Linked DNA regions of Homo sapiens: region 2 is linked to region 1. Evidence: fine-mapped expression QTL. A gene starts in region 1. The other region holds a variant in brackets. All regions are shown on one strand. Distances are from middle to middle. Region 1 holds the start of GAN (gigaxonin). Region 2 overlaps GAN (gigaxonin).

What was found. PIP is the estimated chance that this variant, and not a neighbour inherited with it, causes the effect. A credible set is the group of variants that fine-mapping cannot tell apart.
Region 2: its variant is the best candidate, but not a certain one, in a credible set for the expression of GAN in testis (GTEx, PIP 0.66).

Annotation. Positions count from the first base shown.
Region 1 is chr16:81,310,205-81,318,930 of GRCh38, forward strand. GAN (gigaxonin) reads left to right here and starts at 4,758. Exons shown (of 11, transcript NM_022041.4): 1 at 4,758-5,076. The coding sequence starts at 4,910. RefSeq lists an enhancer at 4,595-4,794 and silencers at 4,805-5,144, 5,285-5,344, 5,365-5,634.
Region 2 is chr16:81,374,679-81,383,404 of GRCh38, forward strand. It overlaps GAN (gigaxonin), which reads left to right. Exons shown (of 11, transcript NM_022041.4): 10 at 2,541-2,650; 11 at 2,737-8,726. The coding sequence ends at 2,918. Among named protein-coding and RNA genes, the nearest start is that of MIR4720, 6.0 kb to the right of the region's middle. The variant C/G (reference allele first, on the strand shown) is at 3,390.

The sequences.
Region 1 (8,726 bases):
ACCAACTCTGAAGCGTTATAAATACTGAGATGTTCTCTGACTCAGCAATTTGAAAGAGCCTAGACTTTTTTTTGGAAAGAAAACAGCTATATATAGATTTGGACAAATGAAAGATTTACCCAATAAAATATCTGAAGACTACCTTAAAATGAATCAGAAGAGACTGTCTCAAACAAATGAATGTTTATGACAAGTCGACTTGGTGTAATGGAAAAGCTTACAGGGCTGGAAAGCAGAAGATCTAGACCTTAGTCTGTTCTGCCCTGACTGGGTCACACCTATAACCTTGACTGAGTCATTTGCTCATCTGTACTTTGGTTTTCTCTTCAATAAGATAAATCCGTTGGACTTGATATTTGCTAAAGAATTTTCAAACTGTTAATATTTTCTTTGCATTATTTCTCTTACTGGACTCTCTAAGTAGTTTTTAGGAAATAAAAGCCCAACCCCCCAAGTGGATTCCTCTCTTGAGGGCACATTTTTCAAAGCAAAAGAAAGCTTTTTTTTCCCTTTTTGCAAAAAGACATTGCTTTCTTGTTTTTTTAATGATTGTAAAAAATTATGCATGATCAGTACAGAAAATAGAAATCGAGGAAAATACAGAGTAAAAGCTTCTATAATAACACTGAGACAACTATACTTTCACCATCACTGTATCTGTAGCAGGTATCGTACAGCAGGTGCTTTAAAAACAGTTGTTGAATGAATGATTACTGTTAATATCTTGCAAACATCCTTTTTGGTCTTCAGACCAAAAACGAATACATAAATAAATCCTTTCTCTGGGTTGTTTCACCTCTAAACCAGAAGAGCTCAGTAAAGCCACCAGAGACTAAAGCTGTTAGGACAATATCAAATCTCTTACATTGTAATATGTTTCACAATGACAGTTGATATCTGATGCCTATGGAATATAAGGAAACAATAACATTTAATCCATCATTCTGATAGGCACAATATCAAGGGTGGCTCAGTTTGAGCAATATCAAGAAGGCTGCAAAACAGTCCACAGTACTTCAGCTCAAGCAAGAGTGGCTCCGGCAGCACTGGGAGAGTTGGCTCTGCCTCCTGAATCCTTCTTCCCACACTTGGGCCCTCTTCCTTGCCCACAGCACCAGGAGGAGCTTTCTGGGGCATGTGAATTCCACTCAACACATTTTATTGGCAACCTAGCAGCCATTTGATTGTCGACTACATTTTCAGTAAACTAATCGTTTCCTGATTACCTCTGAACATGAATTACAGCCAGATCTTGTCTGTAGACCCATGCTACATTTTTTCCTCCAAATGGAATTAGTTGCTAATGTTGAAAATCCGGAATATTCAACATGTAAAGTCTGAATTGTCAGAATCTCTTAAAAAGTTGTTAGATCCACCACCACTGGGCCCCTATCGCACAGAGCAATCAATCAGAGCTGAGGAGCATGTGCTCTTCAGCTCCCATAAGCCCACCTACTCCTATTGTCTGACATCCCACATCCCACAGTTTGCTTTGCTAATTTACCTGATACGCTCCTGCTAATTATGTAAAACATTCATGGGGTACCTACTACACATCAGGCACTGTGTAAGTCCTGGGAACATAGGCAGATAAGGCAAAGCCCCTGCCTTGGAGGAGCTCACAACCCAGCAGTGGAAATGACTTACAAACCAGTAAATTACAGTACAGTATGGTGAGTACAGCACAGCAGCAGGAGCATGCAGAGGACTGACCCACTCTGTCCTGGGAAGCCAGCTCAAGATTTCCTGAAGGCCATGGTTAAGCTGGGTTTTGAAGGATGAATAAGAGTTCACCAGGCCAATGGAGTGGTGGGGAATACTAGCAACAGTGTGGGTGGTATTAAAAATATATATAAAGTCTTCTTCTGCTTAGCTGCCTGTTGCACAGATGATCCTCTCAAGCCAGCAACTACCTTTCTCTTGATGGTCATTCCATTTCCTCCTTCTATCAAAACAACAGGGAAGGTTCACCTTTATCTGGAAGAGCCTGCCTGACAAATCCCCATTCACCTCCAGTTACTTCAACTAAGGCAACCTTCCTACTCGGATAATTGGTTACCTGACTGTGATCCTACTATTGGAGCTCTTTGTTTTGGAACCTCTGATATTTAAAGAATAGACTAGCACAATAAGCAATTAATAAGTACTTATCAAATATTTACATTGTGTAGAGAACTCTCCCTGGTTTTTGACTTTAAAAATGGCAAACACAAATTAACTAAGAACAGATAGAGAATACAGTTCAGAAAACATTTATTTATTTTATTTTTTATTTTTTTTGAGACAGAGTCTTGCTCTGTCACCCAGGCTGGAGTGCAATGGCGTGATCTCGGCTCACTGCAACCTCTGCCTCCCGGGCTCAAGTGATTCTCCTGCCTCAGCCTCCTGAGCAGTGGGGATTACAGGTGCCTGCCACCACACCTAGCTAATTTTTGTATTTTTAGTAGAGACGGCGTTTTACCATGTTGGCCAGGCTGGTCTCGAACTTCTGACCTCGTGATCCGCCCATCTCGGCCTCCCAAGAAACATTTATTAAGTGTCTGATATTCAGGTGTTTTTCTTTTTTTTAATCCCTCCATCCATCCAACATTCAGTTAGCACTATTACGCACCAAGTACTGTGCTTGGTACCTGGAAATCATGCTGAGCTACAATAAACATAGTATAGCAGGTGACATGGATAAATAAACCCATTATAAAAAGTTTCTTGCTCGAGCAATGTTCAAAATACAGCAACTGCTTGGAGAAAGGAATGTCAGCTGCTCACAGGGATACTGGGTAGGTATCATGGAGAAGATAAGTCCAAGCTGCTTGTCTTGTGTGTTTCTTACCTTTTTAAATATATTTTTCGGCCGGGTGTGGTGGCTTATGCCTGTAATTCCAGTACTTTGGGAAGCCAAGGTGGGCGGATCACAAGGTCAGGAGTTCGATACCAGCCTGGCCAACATGGTAAAACCCCATCTCTACTAAAGATGCAAAAGTTAGCCAGGCATGGTGGCACATGCCTGTAGTCCCAGCTACTTGGGAGGCTGAGGCAGGAGAACCACTTGAACCCGGGAGGCGGAGGTTGCAGTGAACAGAGATTGCACAACTGCACTCCAGCCTGGGCAATAGAGGGAGACTCCATCTCAAAAAAAAAAAAGAAAGAAGAAAATATTTTTCAACATCCACAAAAATATAGAAACAGTACAATGAATCTCCACATCCCCATTAAACATCCACAACAATATAGAGACAGTACAACGAATCTCCACATCCCCATTACGTGGCTTTAACAATTAGTAACTTGCGGCCACTTTTGACTCATCTACACTCCCATCTGCTTCCCCATCCCTTTGTTTTGTTTTGAAGCAAATCCTAGACATCTTTATCATTGCATCCGGGAACACTGAGCTGCATTTACAGAAGAAAGTGGAAATGCATGTGTCTTCCACAGCCGTACCCTCCCCATCTATTCTGCCCTGAAAACAGTTAGATACTCGGATTCCTGCCAGTGACTCCAAAGCCTTGGCTGGTTCAGGGTAAATACCCAAGACTTTATTGGAGCCTTTCAGTTGGTTGAAGGACAGTGAAAATTCCATCCTGTCTTGCCTGGAATGCTAGCCACATTCTTCTGGTCCGGAGTCCTCATACAATTGCTAATTTTTTAGAGGCTTATGGAGTCCCTAACGTTTGCACAAAATGGTTGCTACATTCCACACTCCCATGTGCCCTGAGCAACCTCCAGGGAAACTTCAGATACCGTGGGGCTTGGCCTGCCAGCTGAGCTGACCCAGCGATCCTTTCTATCACAGCTTTGATCTTCACTGGGTTGGGAGCCTGTCTGAATCTAAACATCTGCCTCTCTACTGCCCACCCCTTCAGCATTTCCTAGCTCTCCCTGAAAGGTGCAAACATGCATGCAGTTACTCAAACAGAATATTTATCCTTAACTCCCTCTCCCTCACAATTTCTTTTAAAACAATCCACTATTGTCTACCCCCGCCCCCGCATCACCCTTTCATCCAGGTGCCCATTCCCTTCTCTCTAGTCCTGCAATACCTAAGCATCGATCTGCCTTTAGCACATCCATCCCCGCCTTATTCTCCACGCAGGAGCTGAGTGACCTGCACAAAATCCCCTGCTAAATACGGTACTTCCATGGTTCTTCACCACTGCAGAAACCAAACTCCTTCCCACACCAAGGAGGCCCTGCAAAATTTAAGGCCTCCTTCGGACTTCTCCAGCTTCATCTGCTACATCTCCTTCCTAGCCCGCAACCAAAACCATCTTTTCCGGGTCTGTTTTCTCGGGTTTTTGTCCTCTCACCTGGGCAGCTCCTTTTCTCTCATAAATAAAGAAAGCTACAGCGACTTCGCCCTTGCTTCCATGCATCATCTCATGAGTCCACAACAACACTAAGAATTCGCTTTCATTTTGCAGACGGAGAAACTGAGGATGGGCACCTTACCCATGGCCACAGAGCTAGTAAGTGGAACAGCTGCAACCAGGATTCAAACTCGCGGCTCCAGAGGCCACAGGCTTAACCACGGAATCCTAGCCCGCCCGCACATCCCTCCATCGCGGGAGCGACCTATCTCATCCGTAGACACCTTCCGCTGCACCCAGCCGCAGCTGGTCAGGCGGGCGGAGGAAGGAGGCTTCTGATTGGCCATCTCCAGCAGCGGAGGCGAGAAGGCGGGGAGCGACGGTGCGGGGGCGTCGCGGAGAAATGACTTCATGACGCGGCTTCTTAAAGGCGCCGGCCCAGCGCGCCGCGGATAGCACAGGCACGTCCCGGGGGCTCCAGCTTCTGCTCAGAGCGCGGAGAGCCGGGCCGGGCGGGCGCGCGCGCAGGACTCGGGCCGCTCGAGGGGTCCGGCCGGACGGTGTCGGGAGCCGGACCCGTCGGCAGAGGAGCGGGCGCCGCGATGGCTGAGGGCAGTGCCGTGTCTGACCCTCAGCACGCCGCGCGTCTGCTGCGAGCGCTCAGCTCTTTCCGCGAGGAGTCTCGCTTCTGCGACGCGCACCTGGTCCTCGACGGGGAGGAGATCCCGGTGCAGAAGAACATCCTGGCGGCGGCCAGCCCGTACATCAGGTGGGGAGGGGGCTACGGCGGGCGGGCGCGGCGGTGCTGCCCGGAGCCGGAGGCGGGGCGGCCGGGCCGGGCGTGGCCCCCAGACCCTGTCCCCTGTCCCCGGCGCCGGGGTCCCCGCGTCACCGTTGGCGCGGCGTCCCTCCCGGCAAGCGCCGGAACCCGGCCCCGCTGACCGCGTCCCCCAGGCGGCCTCTGTGGCTTCCAGGCCCGCGCTCCCCACTGGACCCCCGCGCCCCTTGGAGTTGTCCCCGGACCCGGGCCGCGATCCCCCGCCTTGTCCCTCCCGGTTCCCACCGCCGCGGCGAGCGCCCGACCTCGGAGACCCTGAGGCCCCCAGACGCCGTCCTGGGCCGGCCGGGACCCGCACCTGCGGGCTGGGCGAGGCCGCGCCGGGGAAGAGTCACCCCCTCGCCCAGGCCGGGCCCGCGGTCCCCGCTGAAGTTCGCCAGTCGCTCGCCTCTGAATCCACGCGCGGGGGCTGGGCCGGCGCCGCCAACCAGGCGGGGAGCGCCCTGCCCGCTGGGAGGCCAGACAGACAGCGCCTCGCTGGGTGCAGGCAGAGAAAACCCTCTCGATGTTCTCCTTGGGTTGGTAGTCCGAACCTCCGGGCGAAATTCTCCTTGCCAAACGTGTCTTTTCCGCTCCATTCTGGTAACTGTTTAAAAGAGGAGTTACACGTTGAAGTAAACTGTAGCGAATTCTCAGGATGCTGTTACAACCCGAGGACCGTGAGAGCCTTGCGACAAAGGGCATTTTAATACTTTAGTAAAGCAAAGCTTAACCTGATTTGCCAACTCAACTAACCAGGTTAATTAAAAGGTTGATAAGACAGTGCTTATACAAGTGTATCAGATCTTGCAGGAGACTATCTTTTCTTTTAGCAACCTTCTTGCAAACTAGGTTGCTGTTTTAATAAAAGGAAAGGGGGGAATGCTAAAAACTGGAGAAACTGACCAGTAAGCTGGTTAAATATAAGCTAGTGGTAGAGAATATCACTACAATTGACAGGTCAGAAAAAGCAAAATGATGTGTATTCTTAGCGCTTTGTCCCAGCAAAACCACCACGCACGCTACACTTTTAACCTTTGCATTGGGGAGATATCTGTGCTAAACTTAGAAGAAATTCAAGTGCCCTTGTAACTTCTGGTTTCTCTTGGATTTGTTTTGTGAATCCATTTGCGCTCTTTGGCGGTGGGGAGTGTGGAGGGGTGGGGGGGCGGGGCGGCAGTAGGGTCTGGGGTAGCATCGTTAGTACAGAATTTGGATTGCTAATGTGACAGACAGCTTCTAGCTGGCAGTTCCGAGGTTTGAGCAACCCATCCCAAATTGGAGTCAGCAGACCAAAGTCTTCCCTGTTTGGGAAAATGCTGAAGAAAACTACTTTAGATGCATTATTGTTATAGTTCTTTAAATGGCATCCGTTTGGCTTAAAAGAAGTAAATTGCAAATTGCCGAATCCTTGCTTGTTATCCTTGTTCGTTTTTCTCCATAGCACTTACCACTTTGACGTACCCCATATTTTACACATTTACTTTGGTGGTCTTTCCCAACCACAGTGTGACCTCAATGAGGTCGTGGTGTTTTGTTTTGTTTTTCGAGACTGAGTTTCACTCTTTAGCCCAGGCTAGAGTGCAGTGGCGTGATCTCGGCCCACTGCAACCTCCGCCTTCCAGTTTCAAGCGATTCTCCTGCCTCAGCCTCCCGAGTAGCTGGGATTACAAACGCCCGCCACCACGCCCGGATAATTTTTGTATTTTTAGTAGAGTCGGGGTTTTACCATGTTGGCCAGGCTGGTCTCGAACTCCTCACCTCGTGATCCGCCCACCTCGGCCTCCCAAAGTGCTGGGATTACAGGCGTGAGCCGTGGCACCCGGCGGTGTTTTCTTTTATTCACTGCTTTACTCTTTGCACCCAGAAAGAACTGTGCCTATCAGTTAATGTATTGAATGAATGACTGCCTTTCTTTCTACCACAGCAAATGTGTACATTAGAAAATTGGCACCATCACATTTTCATAGTACACAGACGCTCAGTTATACCTAATTGAGAAACGCACTGGATTCAGAGTTTGAAGACCCGCTTTGTGCTTCCAGCTTTTACTCATATTAGCTGTGAGTTGCTGGTAGATGACAAGGCTTCAGCTCACTAATCTGATGAATGAGGGATAAAAATGAGTCTTCTCATTTAATCACACCTGTGAAGAAATACGTAATAGTGTTGACACCTCATAGGTCTGTTCCCATGTCTTCAAAGGTAGTACCCATTGAATTAGGAAATATCTGTAGTCCGGTTCTTTCACTTTCTAAATAAGAAAATAGGGGCTCAGTGGACATTAGTGACTTGTGTTATGAGGTTATTAGTACTTAATGGTTGAACTAGGATTAGACTCCAAATTAATTACGGCTAACCGCCTTCCTACTCTTGCCCTACCACGTTAGAGCATTACTTGTATTTCACCGTTCTCTTTGTGTAAACTTTACTGTTAGCTGGCTTACAATATCTTAGAATTAAAATGTTTATCAAGCACTTTTACATACTGTGTCATTTTGGTTTCCATTTTCAATCATCTTTAAAGAGAAGGCAGATTTTTTTTTTTTATGTTTTGTGGATAAACATGAATCAGTCAATATGTGTTTCATCAGTGACAGATGAATTGCTTTAAGTTTATTTGGCTATTGAAGTGATAGAATGTCTTGGGATGTTTTTAAAAATTATCAATTCCGAAGCTGTTTCAAAGTAATTTGACGAATCTGTATCACTAACTAGAAAGAAATTTGTTAATTTTGTATTTTTACTGGTAATTTTAATACCAATAATATTGGGCTTTTATAATGTACTTGTTTGTTTGAATAGCACTTTAGAGAATTATATTGAAACAAAATATATTTATGTATTCTAGAACTTGATGTTTCTTATCTTTCCCTTTTGAAACTTAAGCATTTAGATCTGTGATATCATTAATCTGTGAATTGAATGTTCAAAAGTTTGGTAATCTCTGAAGTTTTATAAAATTCTGATTTTGTTTAATGTCTGTGTTTGGCCTAGTGTTGGTAACTGTCATAAGTGGTTGTGTGATTGTGTGGTTTAGAAGCAGTGGTATGGCCTGGCATGGTAGCTCACACCTGTAATCCTAGCACTGTGAGAGGTGGAGGCGGGAGGATCGTTTGAGGTCAGGAGTTCGAGACTAGCCTGGGCAACATAGTGAGACCCAGTCTGTACAATAATAAATCATGTATATAAAAAATAGGAGCAGTATTGTCTTTTGCTTACTATGTGCCCAACAAAGGAAGCCAGTCCAACTCTGTCACACTGGGAATTAAAGTAACTTGTTTGGCATACTTTCTACTTAATATAGAAAAGTCTTTTGACTTATTGGTTTAATCTTTTATTCTGCTTTATCTTTGGTCTAGCCCTTGTTTTTCCTGCTGACACCCTTAGCAATCCTACCATATTAGAAAGATTTTAAATATAAAAGGAAAAGGCCAGAAAACTCAGCTTTGGCAACACACCCTCATGGTCAGCTCAGAGAGGACTGGCATCCCCGGGTTATGTAGAGAGAGCACGTGTCATGCAGCCCTAGGGTGCAGCTGCTCCAGGAAGGAGGCAGGACCTCCTGCGGTCCCTCAGCTCAGTAAATGGCATGCATGCCC
Region 2 (8,726 bases), 64 kb after region 1:
GGCTTCCGTGTCCTTTGACACACCCCCATCCTTTTTTAAGCACTTCCTATCTGGCACGACAGGATGCCCCAGGCCCCTCTTGTATTTTCTCTGCCTCAGCTCTGGGATCAAGCACTTCTTCATAGAGCCTCAAATCCTTTTAGTGGTTATTAAATTGATTTTCAACAGAGGTGCCAAGGCAATTTAGTGGGGGAAAGAAAAGCCTTTAGCAAATGGTGCTGGAACAGCTAGCTATCTGTATGGAAGAAAGTGAACTGTGATTCATGTCAGACCCAAAAAATTAACTTGAAATGTATCATAGACCTAAATGTAAAAGATAAAACTAAAAGTTCCAGAAGAGAGCATAGGAGAAAAATCTTCGTATTGGGGTAGGCAAAGATTTTTTAGAATGACACAGAAACTGTGACTGTAAAAGAAGAAAAGGATATATTGGAATTCATCAAAATTAAAAACTTCTGTTCTTCAAAAGAGTCCATTAGGAAAATGAAAAGGCCACCTACATGCTGGGAAAAAATATTCATAATACATTTATCTAGCAAAGTATCTATATCCACAGGATATAAAGAATCTGACAATTGAATAAGAAGAAGACAGTAAACCCAATTAAAAAAAAAATTTAGAGACAGTCTTGCTACGTCCTTTTTTTTTTTTTTAATTTATCTTTTTTTTTTTTTTTTTGAGACAGGGTCTCACTTTTGCCCAGGCTGAAGTGCAGTGGCATGATCTCAACTCACTGCAGCCTTGACCTCCTTGACTCAAGCAATCCTCCCACCTCAGCCTGAGTAGCTGGGACAGATGCCACCACATTTGGCTAATTTTTGTATTTTTTGTAAAGACAAGGTTTCGCCATGTTGCCCAGCTGGTCTTGAACTCCTGGGCTCAAGTGATTCACCTGCCTCAACCTCCCAAAGTATTGGGATTGCAGACTTGAGCCACCACACCTGGCCCCCAGTTTTAAAGTGAGCAAACCTTTAAACAGACATTTTATAAAAGAACATAAAATGGGGCTGGGTATGGTGGCTCACACCTGCAATCCCAGTACTTTAGGAGGCCAAGACAGAAGGATCACTTGAGCCCTGGAACCTGAGATCAGCCTGGGTAGCATGGTGAGACCTCATCTCTATGGAAAAAAAAAAAATTCATTAGCTGGGTGTGGTGGTGTGCACCTGTGGTCCCAACTATTTGGGAGGGTGGGGTGAGAGGATCACTAGAGTCCAAGAGGTTGAGACTGCAGTGAGCTGTGATTGCACCACTGCACTCCAGCCTGGATGAGTGACAGAGTAAGACCCTGTCTCAAAAAAAAAAAAAAAAAATTCCATAAAATGACCAATAAGCTCAGGCAAAGATGCTCAACATCATTGGTCTTCAGGGAAGTATACGCCATTAAAGTAGCCAAAATTAAAAATATAATACTCAGATCTCACAGTGATACTGAGCAGTTGGAATTCTCATGCATTGCTAATTGGAGTGCAAAATTATGGCACAAAGCTTTGGAAAGCAGTGGGGCACTTTTTTTTTTTCCAGTAAACAATAACCTTACCATATAGCCCAGCAATTTCATAAGTCCGCAAAAAAGACTTGCTCTCTAATGTTCCTGACAGCCTTATTCATAACAGCCAAAAACTGGAACGTCAACAGGTGAATGAATAACAAATTCTGGGGCTGGACTCTGTGGCTTACGCCTGTTATACAGCATTTTAGGATGCTGAGGTGGGCAGATCACCTGAGCCCAGGAGCTCAAGACCAGCCTGGGCAACATGGCAATATCCCATCTTTATACATACATATGTGTGTGTGTGTGTGTGTGTGTGTGTGTGTGTGTGTGTGTGTGTATGTGTGTGTGTATACATATATGTGTATATGTATATACACACATATACATATATATGTGTATATGTGTATATATGTATGTATAAGTATATATTATATGTATGTATATGTATATATACATACATATATGTGTGTATATATGTGTGTATATATGTGTGTATATACATATGTGTATATGTGTATATATATGCACACGCATACACACACACACACACAGGAATTAGCTGAATGTGGTGGTGCACACCTGTAATCTCAGCTACTTGGAAGGCTGGGGTGGGAGGATCACCTGAACTGGTAGGTTGAGGCTGCAGTGAACCATAATTGTGCCACTGCACTCGGGAGGCCCTGTCTGAAAAACCAACAAATTCTGGTACATCCGTATGATGGAGTACTGCTTAGAAATAAACAGAAATGAATGACAGATGCAAACAACAGTGTGGATGAATCTCAGAAACCTTGTGCTGAGCAGAAGCAGGTTGGAAAGCACATGCTGTTTATGACTCAATACATGTTTCATTCTAGCACAGACAAAACTCCTATCTGTAGCGACTGGCAGCATGTCGGTGGTTACCTGGCAGTGGAACGTGGGGTCGAGATTGGCACAGTGCCTGATACTGCTGATGACTCACCAAGCTTGCTGTGTCAGTCTTCCTAGATGTTGTTGTCATCCTTTTGATTTCCTTAATTTTGTGCATGGGCTTTGTTTTCAGGTGGATCTATCTTAACGACCAGAATTTATGCATCCCCGCCAGTTCCTCTTTTGTTTATGGAGCTGTACCTATAGGAGCCAGTATTTATGTTATTGGAGATCTTGATACAGGTAAGAGTGTTACAGTGATTTTCTTGGAACTGTTTCCTGGTGATTCTGGGTACATTTTCTCACCCTTGCTTATTTCTGTGGCTTAGGTACCAATTACGACTACGTGCGTGAGTTTAAAAGAAGCACAGGAACCTGGCACCACACTAAACCACTCCTTCCATCCGACCTTCGCCGTACAGGATGTGCAGCCTTACGCATTGCGAATTGCAAGCTTTTCCGCCTGCAGCTTCAGCAAGGCTTATTCCGTATTCGTGTTCATTCCCCTTGAGGAGGAAGCAGAGCAGAGTGCGAGATCCTGACCCAAGAGCACCATAACATAGCTCCGAAAGGGAGAGCAGAGATGGCAGCTGAAACTCACTCTGTGCTGGGCTTTGGTATGGTAACTCTTTGGTGGTTTTATGATGCTTACAAACTTGAGCTTTAGCTCTTGTTTGGGAGAACACGTAACTGTTGAAAAACTACCTGGGAGGAGTGAGTTCCTCCAGTTAAATGTGGCTGTAGATGTTGGAGGCTAGGGAGGCTAGTAAATATCAAAAGGAAAAGGGAGTGGGAATTGCTATCATGTAAAATATCAAAGTTAAAATACTAAGGTGCATTTTCCCTGAAGGGAACTCATGTCTGACTGCTGTATTCAAATACGTAGCTTTGGTAACAAACAAAATCCGTATATGCAAATCAACATATCCAAACATGCCAAGACTGCTTTTCCACTGCACTTGGAAGGATATATTATGCCTAA[C/G]CCTGCCCAACAAATTAAGGTTTGTGCCTAAAATGTTAGATTGGACTGTATGCCAGTTAGTCTCCATTTATTCCTAGTACTCTGTCCTAAGAATCTTTTTAAAACTATATCATGATGAATTGAAATGAAGATAAAATTGCTCTTTTGTAACTTTATCTTAGTAATGTAAAGATTCAGTAAATTGATGAGTCAGGTTGCAGCCCTCATGTGAACTGAAAGAAGTTGCTCGCTTCTGTGTTGACTTAGATCAAGACACGTCACGCATCCTTTCTGGGGTAGTACCTGTGGAGCCGGGAAGGGTCTCCTGCAGTGCCATTCTGCCTTCTCAATGAGCAAAACCATTTTCTAAGTATGAGGATATTAGTGAGTAGGAGATTTTATAAAAGAAAGACCTGAGTCAGACAAATAATAAAGGTCTGCTGTGGCTAAAAAAGCAAAAACAAAAAAGCTATCCAGACAAAATACATAGGGATCAGAAACTTTTTCATATAACCTGTCTGAAAGCACACAAAGTCTTGTTTACTACTGTTTAGGGTTTGAAAACTTGTCTTAGAATGCGAATCTGTGTTAAGAATCTAGTCTTTGTAATAGAAGTTTCCCAGTGGCATTCACTAGTGAGAGTTTTAGACAAATTATGTTACGAGTAAAGTTTGGCTGGTAGAATAAACTACCTCAACTTAATTTCATTCTGTTCATAGTAGAGCAAATTAATCTTTTCCTCCTTCCCTCCTTTCCTATCTCTCATTCTCACCTCAACCCACTTTACCCCACTTCTCATTGGGGGAAAAATGTCTTTCGTTCGTGGAACGTATCTTGTAAGATATTTTGTTTTCCACTTGAATTACACCACCCTAGTGTGAAATCGGGGACTTCAAAGTGCTTGATTCCTTCCTAAATTGAATTTTATGCAATGTCAAATTTCTAATCAATTTAATATACAGTACTTCATTTTTAATTGTTTTCTAAAAAAAAGGTTTTTTTTTTCCTTTTGGAATATGGCTGTAAGAAGCAGCATTTTGTCTTATTAACACATGTATAAAGGTATCCTTTGGTTTTAAGTCGAGAACAGGAATTTCTTCTAGAAACTTCCTGTATGGAACGTTTATATGCAATTAACATGCATATGAAAAACATCACTTACGTTCTCCCACCCATAGACATAAAAAAGGGTGACCTGTGATTTTTTTTCTTATACCTGCTGGAAGTCAGTACAATGCGTCAAAAGTTGCTGAAAGATGCTGTGCCTATGGGGTTCTAGAGAGTGTTGAGTGTGGTACATTAACTCTCCATTTTAGCCAGAAGATACCTGATAAGAGAAGGTGTAAGGTTTTTATCTTATATGCCAGAGGCACCAGGCCAGATGTGCCGCACAGTCATGTAATTCAATCATGTTTAATATGTCAGTCAAAACCAAATTCAGAATTGTTTTGTGTACCAGTCAGCTGTTGTCTGCACATTTTCGTAGTGACAGTGTGGAGATCTTTTTAATGAAAGCAAACTATGTGGCCTCTGCAAAGAAAGGAAGATTTTTCTTTTTACAACTAGATATTAGTTTTAGAGGAAGGAAATAGCTGAAAAACTAAATTTGCTTTGGTGAAATGTCCTGTACAGAACAGTACCTTGGCATTCAGCAGCTGTAATTGGGGAACATTAAAACAGTAACTGACATCCAGTTAAAGCCACGATCGTCAGCAATTCTCCTTTTTTAATTTCTGATATTTAAAGTTTTTTTTCCAGTCTACACCAGGCCTCTCCAAGGAGACAGTTCATTATTTAGGAGTGAATGTGTTCCTCTTGCAATATTATCAGTACCTGCATGACTTGGTAAATTCATTTTATAAAAATAGTGTTTTTTTTTTTTAATTTCAGTTCATTGACTCTATAACTGCAGAAATTAGATAATGTTTTATAAAATAAATTTGCCACATAATATGGGATGCAATAACCAACAAAGCTGCTAAGTGCCAAACTGTTATTTTACTATATATAAATATTAAAATATTGTGTTGAAGTATAGGGATGTATTTAATTTTACTATGCTCCAACATTAATCATGACTCTTTTGTAAATTACAGTTATTTCAGTATTGTAAAATAAATGTTGACTCATTTCATGCAGGTTTGTGTTTTAACATTCCACTTATGCCTTGAAACATCATTTCTTGATAACTTTTTGATACTTCTTTCTTGATAAGGCACTTTTACCAGGTGTGTGTTGGAATTGGTGGCTCAGGATAGGTCTTAAATTTTAAATACAAATATCTTTGGGGGAAGTGCAATTTATTTTCAGAAGGAAAGTTGTCTCAGGTTAGAATAAGTAAATATTTAAAGAACCTCTCCTAGGCTGCAGTCTAAAATAGGTAGTTTGTTTCTTTGTTTAGCATATCCAAATTTAGATTTTTCAAAGATTTAAGTGTTTATTGAAAGTGTTTTTTGTTTTGTTTTTGATAGTGCTTATATCCTGTGAATAGAAAAAGTGTGAGAGATGAATGAGTGAGTTGTACGTGTGTGTGTGATGCTATTTGACCTGATAAATGTATTTGTGTTTACTTTTTGAATTGTAGTTCTAAACTACATATATTACTGTCTCCTGGTGCTTCAGATAAATTCTTGAGCCTGTTGACCTTCAGTTTATACTACTGTGTCGAACTCATATTGAGTGTAAATATTGAAATATTTGTAGTTTATAGTAAGTTTTACTTGGTGTTCGCGTTTCTCTTCTTCAGCAGGATTAAAAACAGTGTTTACCAACTCGTAGTTGGTATACTGTCAGGATTTGGCCTAAGAAATTTCTGAATGCATTGTTTAGCTTAGTACTTCATTGCTGTAAGGAATTGATAGCTAACTGTAGGCTTTTTTCAAACTGTATAACAACCAAAAAGGAGCATTTGGGGGTATGTTGGATGGTGTTTTGTTTGTAAACACTTTGTTATATTGCACTACCACTTTAATGATGACACTTCCTTCATTGATGGCTTGGAAGTGTCATTTTTATAATTTATGAGTTGGGGGGATTCCCTAGTCAATGCATAGGAAATACATTCTTTGTACAAACGTGGTAAAGAGAGGACTGGCTTTGCTATGGCACCTAAGTTACTCATGGGTAGTTAAGTTTCATTTCTAGAGAAATGTCTTAGCTGCTGTGGTCCATTAGAGTTCCCTTTGGTACATTCCTACCTCAGTGTACCAAACCAGGGATTCCAAAAACCTTCCAAGGAGTGCTAGAAACACCGCAGTATCCCCTTCCAGAATGTTGGCGTTCATGATTCAAGAGGCCTCCCGTGGTCAGATGAAGACCTTTGGTTAAATGGGGGAAGAATGAGGTGGCGCTTTGACTGTATCAATTTAAAGATGCCGGAACCCCGTTAAAAACACCTGGTGGAAGGGAAAGGTGAGGCGGCCCTTTTCCACTGGCTGCTCACTGAGCACTGGAGTCCAGGAAGTCAGTGAGAAGAGAGCAGCTGAGTGTAGCAAAACCCGCCTTGGGTCAGCCAACACATGTCTGATGAGCACCCACTAGGAACTGTGCTTGCCATCCTGGGAGCTGAACAGTGAGGCAGAGGTCACACCACTCTCCTACTCAAGGTCATAAACCCACTATGGAACGGGCAAGGGCCCCGTCTTTGTCATCTGCCAGTCTCAGTGCTTGCACAGAGTAGGTAGGCAATAAACATTTGACAAATAAATATAAGATTCTTGTGATCAAAGTAATGTTCTTCTGTTGAAAAGGGCACTCCAAGAGTGACTGATTTTACTGGGTTTTCAGTGAGAAACTTTGTACCCATATGGGCTGGCCTCCTATACGGAGCTGAAACTAGCATGGGCCGGCCTCCTATATGGAGCTGAAACTAGTATAGCATAAACAATGCCAAGTGCCTGATGTACATGATGTACAGTCTTCTGATTGTACCCTCTATATGGGACTATGAGACCCTCTATAGACTCAGCACAGCTTATAATGTTGATCATGTTTAGTATTGGGCTTTATTGACTGCTTTTTATATGGGTGTCAAAATCTTTCCAGGACATACCCCTTTGATCCTCACACCTCTGGAATAGGCAGGGCACTCTCCCCATTGTACCAGGGTAATCTTGGAGGCCTGATAGATATGGCTTCATTTCTCACTTTAGGGAGGAGCAAGAACCAAAAGCAGAAGCCAGGTCTTTGGATTATCAGCTCACCAGTCAGCCAGTGAGGCTGGAACTTGATTTTTCTAGGCATACAAGTATTTTTAGTAATAGAATAATCATTTTTAGTATTAATACAATTTACGCTCCCAAACATGTCCTTTGCTAGTTGCACAGGCATAAGCTGAAAGATCTTTGATTTTCTTTGTTAGTTAGCTATAGGAAGGTTAAGAATTTATTTACTAAGGTCGTAAGAACAGAAGAAAGTTTCTTTGAAAGAGAAACTGTTTTTTTATTTCAAAGAGCTTCATGTATACTTCCCTCTCTTATTCCATGTAATTAGTAAGGGAAAATAAACTATGTCTTAGAATGTTGAGGAAAGTATTTTGATAGCTTTTAATAATTCTTGAAATACTCTTTACTCTGTCTGTAGTTTTGAGAAATTACAGAAATTCATAGTATAAGGATGAGAAGGGGCCCATTTGCCCATATTTGATAACACAGACTTGGATTGAGTGTCTGTCATGCCTGCTGGCAGTTAAGTCTCAGTGGTATTGACTGCTAGGCATTTTCTATATTTTTTGCAAGTTAGCTGGTAAAACTTGGTAAAGTTTTGTGTTTTTCAGAAGGAACCCTATTATTATTTCCATTTTAAACATATTTCAATATTGTCTCATTGTAATAGTTCCATTTATGTGACATCTGAGGAATTAAATCATACTTCCAGATGGTTTGGTCTAATGTATACAGTTTAGGAAAGTTTATTCTTTTTTATTTTATTTTATTTTTTTAAATTTCTTTTAGAAACTGGGTTTTGCTCTGTTGCCCAGGCTGATCTTAAACTCCTGGCCTCAGATGTGGAGACCCAGCTGGGACTACAGGCATGAGCCACCACGCTCCGTAGAAAGTTTGTTCTTTTTCAGTTCTGTCATTGAAATTCTCTAAGTGATTGGATTTTTAAACCCCTTCCCCTTTTCATGAAATTAAACATCAAATAAATAAAACTACATTATATAATTATTTAGTCAGAAATGACTGTTGCCCTCTCTTTTTTTTTTTTTTTTTTTTTTTTTTTTGAGACGGAGTCTCGCTCTGTCGCCTAGGCTGGAGTGCAGTGGTGCGATCTCGGCTCACTGCAATCTCCGCCTCCTGGGTTCAAGCAATCATCCTGCCTCAGCCTCCCCAGTACCTGGGATTACAGGTGCTTATT